2 separate regions of the Homo sapiens genome follow, and region 2 is linked to region 1. Evidence: fine-mapped expression QTL. Tissue or cell type: monocytes. Region 1 holds a variant in brackets; the other region holds the start of a gene. All regions are shown on one strand. Distances are between the middles of the regions.

Region 1 (5,148 bases):
CACCTGATGATGAGGTTAGAATAGGGCATTGCCCCTGCAGAGCCTAATTTCCCCTCTCATTGGCCCTCTTTTTCTGGGCATTTTTCATGGCATTTTCTGGGAATTTTTCATGCATTCTTGTGTGTGGCAAGCCTAGCTTCTTGGTGAGGAGAGACACAGGTGTCCAGCTGTTCTCTGTGTAACTAGGAGTTACAGCTATTCTCTCTGTAACTAGGATTTCCCTCACGGGGAAGGAGAAGGAAGACTATTTTATCCTTGGAGCTAACTAGCAGCCATCAGACTGACACATTGATCACCATCTGAATTCTGTGGCATCTCTCAATTGGTTAAAGCCCTAGAAAGAAGAGGAATGCTTTATTAGCACTCTACATTCCAGCACTTTATTCTATTCTCTTTCCAGTGGCCACGGGTGTCCCACAGAGCAATGCTAGAATCCCATGACCGCAGACATGGTGTGGATTCATCCCCACCCCCTTCTTTGCATAGATTGTTCCTCTGCTGAGGGCCAAGAGCTTTGAGGACAGGGAAAGCCTATCTTGTTGATGGGGCATCCTCAGCAGCTGGCTCAGTACCTGGTGCACTGTCAGCCCTCAATGGCTATTTGTGGAGTCCAGTTGTTCCTTAAAATTGCCAGAGAGGGAAATGCACTTAATCTTCCCTGGAAACACATTGCAAGGCACTGAAATTCTTCCAACTGCCCAACCTGAAATTCTAATGATTACACTATTTTTTTTTCACATTCTGCTAACTCTTAAAAGAGTTTTTTGAGAACTCATTGGTTAATTAGAGAAAGAACTTCCCAGATGCAAAAATAGAGCAGGCTCCCTCGCTGTCCAATATGGCAGCCTCAGGAGCTGCGTGCAGTTACTCCTGATGGAGATGTGCTGCGAATAGAAAATGCACACACACTGGGGTTTGAAGACTTAGTAAAGAATGTAAAAGACTTAATAGTTTTTTCTATTGATTACATGTTGAAATGATAATATATTGGATATACTGATTTAAATAAAATATATATTATTTGTGCTTATTTCACTTGGTTCTTTTTTTATCTTTTAAAAATGTGCCTACTGAAAAATTTAGAATGACATGTGCAGCTTGCATTTGTGGCTTGCATTGTATTTCCACTGGCCAGAGCTGCTCTAAGTTCTGCTGATCTTAATTCTCATCCTGAACCAGGAAGGAAGCCAGGAAGGCAGGGGCTTACTGTGTATCTTTAAGGAAGTCCTTGCTTTTTTCGGCCTCTGTTTTCACTCCTGTGAAGTGGATCCCATACCCCATAAGGTCAGTTCCAAATTTCTGTTTCATGACTTACATAGAAGAAGGGCCAATTTCCCCCGAGGCTCTACCAGAGAGGTGTTCAAATATTTAGTGTCTGGTATAGCATGGCTACCTACTAATCTTGGTAGTTCTTGGCCATCAACAACAGGATGGCTGTGATAGAGTGTCCTGAGTGAACATGTGCTGCAAAGCCACCAACCAGTAGGAAAATCTCATAAACAATAGATGCAAAATTGGCTTAAATAGATTAACGAAATGGGAAGGAGCATGAATGTTCATTTTGCTGCCGATTTAGACATTTTGTTTTTTTGACCTTCGTGACTGAACTGCATCTTGACAACAATTAGAGGATGAATCAAGACCTCGTGTTCAGGCAAACAGCCAGAAGAGGTGCTTAATACAACACAGGAGAGAGATGCTGCATTTGAAACGATGACCCCCCCGTGCCCTAATCACTGTTCCTACAAATTTAAATGTGATACTCCATCCTGGTTATGGAAACAGCAATCTAAATGGCTCGATTTTTCTTCATCAGACTTTGCTTAACACAGACTCATTGAAGTGGAAATCTAGTTTGTACAGAATTATTTACAGTTTGTTGGATTTTTTAAAAGGACCTGTTTATAAGAAGACACATAATGGGCTCCACTGAGCTGGCCTCTGGAATCAGAATCTCATTTCATAAACCCTCTGCTAATGTGTTCTGATCTCTTTACCTCATTCCTCTCATCGGTCCTGCCTGTTGGCCTAATTTCTGAGGTTATGTCCTCACAATGGGCATTCTTTTATTTTTTTCAGCCCGGCATCTGATGTGTACGTCCTACTATAGAAGCCAAAATGGTCAGACATTTGCCATCCCATGTCTGGGTTGCTGGGATGCAGTCATGTGAGCTGGGATGCAGTCATGTGATCCAGGCTTGTCCAAGCAGATGCTCCTACCTGAGACAGTAAAGCTGGAGTTAGCGATGGTGAGAAGCAAGGGACAGAGAATTCATTCCTCTAGCAATGACCTCTACAGTCTCA[G/A]GATAGAAGTGATATTCATGGTCTCCAGTGGGCAGCAGGCAGGTGCCAGAAGTAGTGAGTGACCTGCGTGTGGCAGTGATGTTTCAGCTAGACTAAATCAGGCCTATCTTTCCCTATCCCCTCTCAGCATCCACGTCTCCCCCTTATCTTCCTCTACTTTTTAAAAAGGCTGCATTTGCCATTTTCTAATATATCATGTTACTTACTTTCTAAAATGTTTATTGCTTATGGTTTTCCCCACTGGAATGCAAGCTTCATGGGGGTGGGCGCTTTGTCTGTTTTGTTTGCTGACGTATCCCAAGGGCCTGGCACATGGTAGGCACTCCATCCATCGTTGTTAGATTAAATATTTGTTGGAAGGATGAATGAAGTTTTCCTGTGGTGTGATTTTGGTGATCTGGCCCCCTCTGTTCCCTCCTCTTTTTTTCTGAATCTTATTCTACGGCATCCCCGTGGATCTTATGAGTCATCCAATACCATTTCCAATGCATCCCTTTTTTCTCCCCTTAAGTGAACCAGGATCAGTTTCAGTTATTTGCAAGCAAGATCTGAGACTGGAATGGGGTCAAATCCTTTACATTGTGAACATCCATGGGGCATTTTGCCACCAGGGGTTATTTGGCAATTTTTATTTTTTGTTGTCATAACTGGGAGGTGCTACTGCCATCTAATGGGTAGAGGCCAGGGATGCATCTTACCGTGCCCAGCACAGCCCCTGTACAGAAGAATTATCTAGTCCAAAGTGTCAACAGTGCCAAGGTTGAGAAACTCTGTTTCACCTCCTAGGAATGTCCCCGGTGGAATCAGGCGGCCCTGAGGGATGGAGGTGCTGGCTCCAGGGCCTGGGGACCTGGCATTGGATCCTGGCTCTGTCTCTGATTAGTTGTGCAATGAGCGATGAGTCCCTTGTTCCTGCTGACTTATGCTTTCCTGATCTGTTCAATGAGTATGATAATGCCTACTTTTGAGAGGAGTTTAGAGGCTTATAAGAGAAGATACATATGACAGTGGCTCATAGACGCTGATGGGACACGCTAGGTAGGTGCCAGCCCTACCTTCCACTCTGAGTGTCACTATTCTAAAGTGGAGTGTTTCTGGGAATTTTGAACTTCAAGTTAAATCTACAATGCAGTGTTCCTTGGAGTGAAGAGAAAGGGCAATGGGAGCTGTCCTGTTCTGCAGATGGAGCCCAGGGAACGGGACAGCAGGCAAAGAAGGGTCCGGCCAGGAGCTGGGCCTGGCTGTGGTAGCAGAACACCAGCTGCCGCATAAGCTGTCACCTTAAGGGGCTACATTTGCAAGGCCAGCTCTCTCCTGCAGCTGCTTTATTGCTCTTTGTATATCAAGACCCCACCCATGTGGTTTCAAGGTCAAGCTCACTACAGGTGGAGACAGAAGAATCTGAGAACAAGTAGAGTCTTCCTTGCCCAATTATGATTTTTATTCCTATGAAAGTGAAATTTATTAATTTAACTAATATTTCTGAGGGCCTGATTTGGGTCATGGATGATGTTATGAGATGGAGAAACAGAGAATACTTATCAAAGAGCTCAGATTCTCAAAGGGAAGAATTACTGTTCAATAATCATTAAAATAACTTGGGATAAATGGCAACAGATTTATACATAATGTGCCTTGAGGATAAAGGAGCAAGAAACTGTGCCAATGGGGTCTGGGGAACGATTCACAGAGGAGATGACACTGGGACTGAATCTTGTGTGACGAGAAATCATGGGGGGGATTTTCTACTCTGAGAGAATAGCATGTGCAAAGGCCTGGAGGTGGAATAAGCAAGCCCCATGTGGGAGAGCCCCCAGGAATCTCTGTAAGGTTAGAGCAGAGCGCTTGGAAGAAAGAGGTCAGAGATGAGCTCTAAAGCAGTTGTTCTCAGCCTTGGCTGCACACTAAAATCCCTGGGGCTTTTCAAAAGCTATCTTCCTCTAGACCACCCTCACCCCCACCTGCTCAGAAATGGTTTTCCAGGTGACTCCAATGTGCAGCCTAGGTTGGGAGCCCCTGCTCAGAAACAAAGGTTCCACATCAGGAAGGAAGGCAGCAAAGTGTAGTAGTGGGATCAGCTGGGCCTTGGAAACCGGGGTTCAGGTTTTAAGTTTAGATTTAGAATCGGGTTCAAATCCCACATCTATGCTTATAGCTATGTGCTGTAGGTAACTACTTAATCTTCCTGTGACTGATTTACTTTAATTAAAAACTTGGAATAATAAGACTTACCTCTCAAGAGGGTTATAACTTCAAATAAAATAACCCATGTAAAGTGGTTGGCACACTGTAGACTTACAGCAAATGTTAGCTCCTCGCCCCCTTCCCTTACAGTAGTTCCTATTAAGGAATTTAAGCATTGTCCTCTTAGTGATGGGGAGCTGCTCAAAGATAATCAGATGGCATTATTGAATGTGGTTTCTGTCTCTGAAATGCAGAAGATATACCAGAGAGGGGGAAGCTTGTGTGAAAGAATATTGATAAACGTGGCTTTCTGTGTTGTCTAGAATTGCTGTCAATGCCTTAAAGTTGAGGAAAATAAATACTAAATACTAAATATTCCATATTGAGAGAGGTGCCAGAGCCATCTCCCTGTGTCACGGAGAGTACCTTTCTGAAAAGCTTATGCCCCGCTGCCTCTAACCTCCCCAAGAACCAGCACTTGAGTGCCTGCTACATGGAGGGCATGGATGGTCAGTCGGTGTAACTAAGAGAACACTTGGGAGAGGAGACAGGATAATAAGAAGTTTAAGTTTTCAATGCAACTGGACTTAAAAAGAAAATTACCTAAAAGTGACCAGAAAGCTATGTAGGTTTTGCCCTAAGTGTCATCAAGGTGTTGAT
Region 2 (5,148 bases), 460 kb after region 1:
ACCACTTACCAAATGCCAACCAGACACTGTGATCAGACTCTACAAACATTTCTGTCACTTCATCTTCAAAACTTTCTAAGGCAGGTGCTACGCCACTTCTCATTTTACTAAGGCTGAGCAAGGTTAAATAAATTGGCTGTGGTCACACTGCTTGAAAGTGAAAGGGCTAAGATTTGAATCTATGCCTGCCTGACTCCCAAGTTTGCTCTGCAGGGTTTCAATGAGCCTAATCCTTTCCATTTTACAGAAGAAGAAACTGAGGTTCCAAGGTTAAGTAAATTCCCTAAGGTTACACAAGAGAAAGTGGTGAGATGAGATCTGCCTTGAGAGCTTTTGGTTCCAGTGCCTAAACATTTACCTATTGCACTATTCTGAAGCATGAATGAACATACCCCAGGATAACTGCTCTTCCTGAGATGGTGCTGATAAAGCTTCCCGAAATCAAGAGCAAGATGAGGAGGGATGTCCAAGAAACTATTCCAATGCAACTAGATGCCACCGATTCTTTATCTTTGTTCAATACTTAACACAAGACACACAGCAAATCACTGATTTAGGGCACTGCCACTCATTAGCCATGTGACCCTAGACAAGTTACTTTATTCTCTGAGGATATGTCTTTATCCATGAAGTGAGGAGTCAATAAGTTATCACACCTAAAGTGTTTAGCACGGTGTCCAACATAAATTTAGCAAGGGCCCCAAAAGTGCCAGCCAATTACTGGACAATCGTCAGACTGCAAACTAACCCCCTGGGGTTGCAGTGGAGATGTGGGATCTGATTTGGGGGCCACCCTAGAGCATGCATGCTGCACCTCCTGCTTCTCCGTTCCAATAACAGACAGGTGTTCCCCCTCCCCCCACCAGCAAGGGTCATTCTTGGCTTGCTGAATGGGTCAAGTAGCTATTAACAATATATTATTAATGACTGAATGCAAGGAGAAGAAAAATATTGATCGAAGTATTCATGGAATTTCTGAGTGTCAGCGGTGGAAGAGTCTTTGGGAATCATTTAGTTCAAACTCTCCTTGTAACATAAGAAAAATAAGACCCACATAAAGCAAAATCTCACAGGTAGGCAATGGCTATAACCAAGATCCATCAAAGGACACGGTCAATGGCCTCCATCTGCTTCCAAATTTAAATGGCCTCTTTGTCCGGACAAAAGTTACTAGTCCTGCTCAGCAAGCTTTGCAAAAAGCAGTGAGTATCCTGTTGCTAAGTGTGTTTAAACCCAGGCTGGACACACTTTGACAAGGGATTTCCGCCCTGGCAGTGACCAGATGACATCTGAGGTCCCTGCAACCACAGAATTATCATTCTTTTTGTCATTGCACCTAGGTTGCCCATGTTAACCCAGTCACAATTTGCATGTTGTCCACAAAGACCTGAAAGTGGACAAATCAGTGACTGAGACTACCACATAGAAGTTGTCTCCAAGCGCAAGCTTCCTTCAGTGCCTCTAACCACAGAGGAACTGGTCAAATAGCTTGCCCCCATTCCTGCTGCCCGTGGCCCCTCATTTCTGAAGTGCCTATCAGCATGCGTCCACAAGCAGATAGCTGTCTGAGTATGATGCCCACTTGGCCCCCAACCCTAGACCTGCTCACTAAATATCGGGGCAGACTACTCACTCAAGACCTGCTCCTGTCACCTGTGGGCCACGGGATCTCTCAAAGGAGACAGGAATACAGGAACTGAGCTTTTCTAAGCCATATGGCAAGAGCCAAGTCTTGCAGCCACACCGCTCCTTGTAAACACCGCCAGGCCTCAATGGCTGCACTGATCCCTCCTTTCCAAAGTGCCCATTCTCACTTCTGCTGCCCTCACCTCACTCCAACTTTAAACGCTGGAGAGGGGAGGAATAAACTAAAACTATGAGCCCACTTCCTCTTGCTGCCATTTTTCAGTACTCGAAGGCACAAGGTGGTCTAAGAGACTGGGGTTAGAGAGCCTGTGTCCAGCCGATCAGAACTGCCGTTGGTTAGTGTCTCGGGGGCCTGCGGATATCTCTTTGGCCAGCTCCCCAGGCTGCGGGATCCGCCCTGGCGTCCCCATCCCGGGCTCGCACCTGCGGCGCTGACTACCTCCTCGCTGGCCAGGCTCGTCTCGGGTGGGCCCTGATGACCCAAACCTTCCTCCTCACGGGGAAGTCAACTGGTCTCCGGGGACTCCCACCCCATGCAGCCTCCCTGTAGCCTGTGGCTAATTCGAGCGCCTCCAGTCAGGGGCTAGCCAGTGTCCAGGTGAGACCTGGGAGTGGAGGGAGAAGGGAGCGCTGCCGGGCGCCCGGCCTCACCTGGTAATCCAGGGAGAACTTCACGCCCTGCTCCACCTCCTCGTGGAAGCACTGCTTGGCGTTGTCCGGCAGCTCGAAGGTGAGCTCGGCCCCGCAGGGCTGCTCGGCCCGGCGCAGGAGCAGCAGCAGAAGCAGCACGGAGGCGGAGCGCGGGACAGTGCTGCCCATGATGCTCTCGGTCCCGTCTCGAGGGCCGCGGCTCGGGCGCTGCGCCCCCGGCGGGCTGGGGCGACGACTACCGACCGGGTCCTAGGAGGATGTAAGGGGATAGACGTGGCACCAGCGGAGCTCTGCGCTTCCGGGAGGGCCGGCGGCTCAGTGCGCAGCCGCGCGCTCAAAGTGGGCCCGGGCACCTTCCGCCCGCTGCGCGTGCGCGCTGGCCGCGCTGCGCCAGGGGACACGCCCCCCCCACCCCCCCGCAACGCCTCTCCCGGCTCGGAGGGTGGGTCTCCGCGGAGGGGAGGTGGGGCTCCACCTAGCGCGCCCCTACCCAGAAGAGGGAGAAGCCCTCCCCGCTGTTCTGCGCGCTCCCGGACCCGCAGGGCTGAGCATCCCCCCAGGTCGACCCAGGTCCACCCTCCAGCTGCTGCAGCACGAAGCACGTGGGATTTTACTCCCTCTATAAGGCTCCGCTTTTGACAGGCTCTGTAACTTCAGTCTCACACTTCCCTCGAGAACCAGTCTCCTTGTCTTGAAATGGGTGTGCCCAAACCTAACATCCACAGTAGTTAGGGAGCTAGGTGAAAGATAAGGGAACGCTGGGAACCCGATTAACACTCCTTTCTTCATTCCCATACCCTTCCCAAGGTGAAAGAGTGTGCGAAGGGGGTGGGGAGTGGGGAGAGTAAGTAAAGACCCATCATTACACCTGCTCTGGGAAAAACACGAGCGTGCTCACACACAAACGATCTCATGAAAATCCAAGTAAAGTCTCGCAGCGACTTCAGGTATATTTTGGCTGTCAGGCTCGTTGAAAATTCTTTTTGCACAAAACTGTCATTTTTGCACTTTGACTTCTTAAAAGCTCTGAAAGCAGATAAATTGGTTTACTGTCTTACCCATGACCACTGACTTAAGATTCTTTTGTATAATCGTAACTATAGGTATAGTTTTATATTCACTGTGATCCAATAAACAAAGAGAAAAGACGTAGATTGTGATGTCGATACTCAATAAATAACTTATTCAGGAGAGCATTACTAGACGTGGTATATCTTGACTTCAGGAAAGAATGTTACTGCCCATATAGATTTCCGCTGGCCACATTCACTATGGATGAACACGCTAATGTGTGAAAGCAATCTGTAGGCTTGGAAATAACATGCATGCATAACATAGTTAATAATATTGACTGGCTCAGTGACAGGCATGGAAGAGGTGTTTAGTAGTGTCCCTTAAGCTTCCTTCCCTGGCACGGTCCTATTTCACGTTTTTTTTTTTTTTAGGAACTGATAGAAAACATGGAAGTAATAATCATCTGATCTAGATGAACTAAGTGGAGAAATAAATGACAGATATAAAACCACAATTGGCCGGGAGTGGTGGCTCACGCCTGTAATCCCAGCACTTTGGGAGGCTGAGGCGGGTGGATCACGAGGTCAAGAGATCGAGATCATCCTGGCCAATGTGGTGAAACCCCTTCTCGACTAAAAATACAAAAATTAGCTGGGGGTGGTGGTGCGTGCCTGTAGTCCCAGCTACTCGGGAGGCTGAGGCAGGGAGGCAGGGGTATTGCTTGAACCTGGGAGGTGGAGTTTGCAACCTGGCGACAGAGCAAGACTGCGTCTCAAAAAAACAAAACAAACAAACAAAAAAAAAACACGATTGCCCTGGCACAGGTGGAGTGCTCTGCTAAGACTAACAAAAAGAAATTTCGGGCTGGGCACCATAGCTCATGCCTGTATCCCAGTATTTGGGGAGGCTGAGGCAGGAGGATTGTTTGAAGCCAGGAGTTCGAATCTAGCCTGGGCAACATAGTGAAACCTCGTTTCTACAAAAACAAACAAACAAAAATTAACCAGGCATGGTGGTGTGGGTCTGTAGTCCCAGCTACTTGGGATGCTGAGGTGGGAGGATTGCTTGACACCAGGTGTCTGAGGCTACAGTGAACTGTGATTGCACTACTGCACTCCAGCATGGATGACAAAGGGAGACCCCATCTCTAAAAATCAAAATAAATTCCTCCGGATTAAATGTTAAGTCTTACATTTAAGTTCCAAGAAAACACCTGCATAAGTTCAGGGGAGGAGCTGACATTGAAGAAGCTCTAGTCAGAGCATGCAGGCTGTTGGCTGGGACACCTCGGTTCTCCTCCAAGCATCCTCTTACATCTAATAGGCTAGATTACTTCCTTATATGGCAGGTTCAGGGCAGCATCCCAAGAGGAACTAGGCAGAAGGAGCAAGGCCCCTGAGACCTAAGCTTCAGACCTTTTCCAGTATGACTTTCTCCACATTCTGTTGACCAAAGCAAGTTCAAAGGCCAGCCCAGATTCAAGGAGGTGGAAAAATGGAATCTACCTCTGGATTTGAGGAGTTGCAAAGTCACATTGCAAAGGAGGGTCATACTGGGATGGAAGGAATTATGGCTGTTAAGCCATCTTCTATAGTATCCAGACTCACTCAGCTTGTCAATGGCTAAGCCAGAAAGTGAACCCAGATCTGCTTAATTCTGAAGACTACCAGCTTCCCACTAAACACACTGCCTCTACCCATACCTCAGGGAACACTTGTCCTACATGTTCCATAGGGCAAACCTTGGACCAAAGCATGAATCTGACACTGAGGCACATTTCAGCTCACACAATAAATGATTTTCTGGAACCAGAGATTTCCAAAAATAGAATGGACA

Which allele goes with the higher level. Positions count from the first base shown, and alleles are read on the strand shown. Sizes are in standard deviations (SD) of each study's normalised expression.
With allele G in place of A in region 1, the expression in monocytes of the gene that starts at base 2,604 in region 2 is higher (large effect, 1.7 SD a copy in CEDAR).

What was found. PIP is the estimated chance that this variant, and not a neighbour inherited with it, causes the effect.
Region 2: TMED3 starts here. The variant in region 1 is fine-mapped to the expression of TMED3 in monocytes (CEDAR, PIP 0.95).

The regions. Positions count from the first base shown.
Region 1 is chr15:79,767,162-79,772,309 of GRCh38, reverse strand. No RefSeq gene overlaps it. Among named protein-coding and RNA genes, the nearest start is that of TRC-GCA5-1, 25 kb to the right of the region's middle. The variant G/A (reference allele first, on the strand shown) is at 2,305.
Region 2 is chr15:79,308,568-79,313,715 of GRCh38, reverse strand. TMED3 (transmembrane p24 trafficking protein 3) reads right to left here and starts at 2,604. Exons shown (of 3, transcript NM_007364.4): 1 at 2,299-2,604. The coding sequence starts at 2,466. RefSeq lists silencers at 2,431-2,500, 2,711-2,760.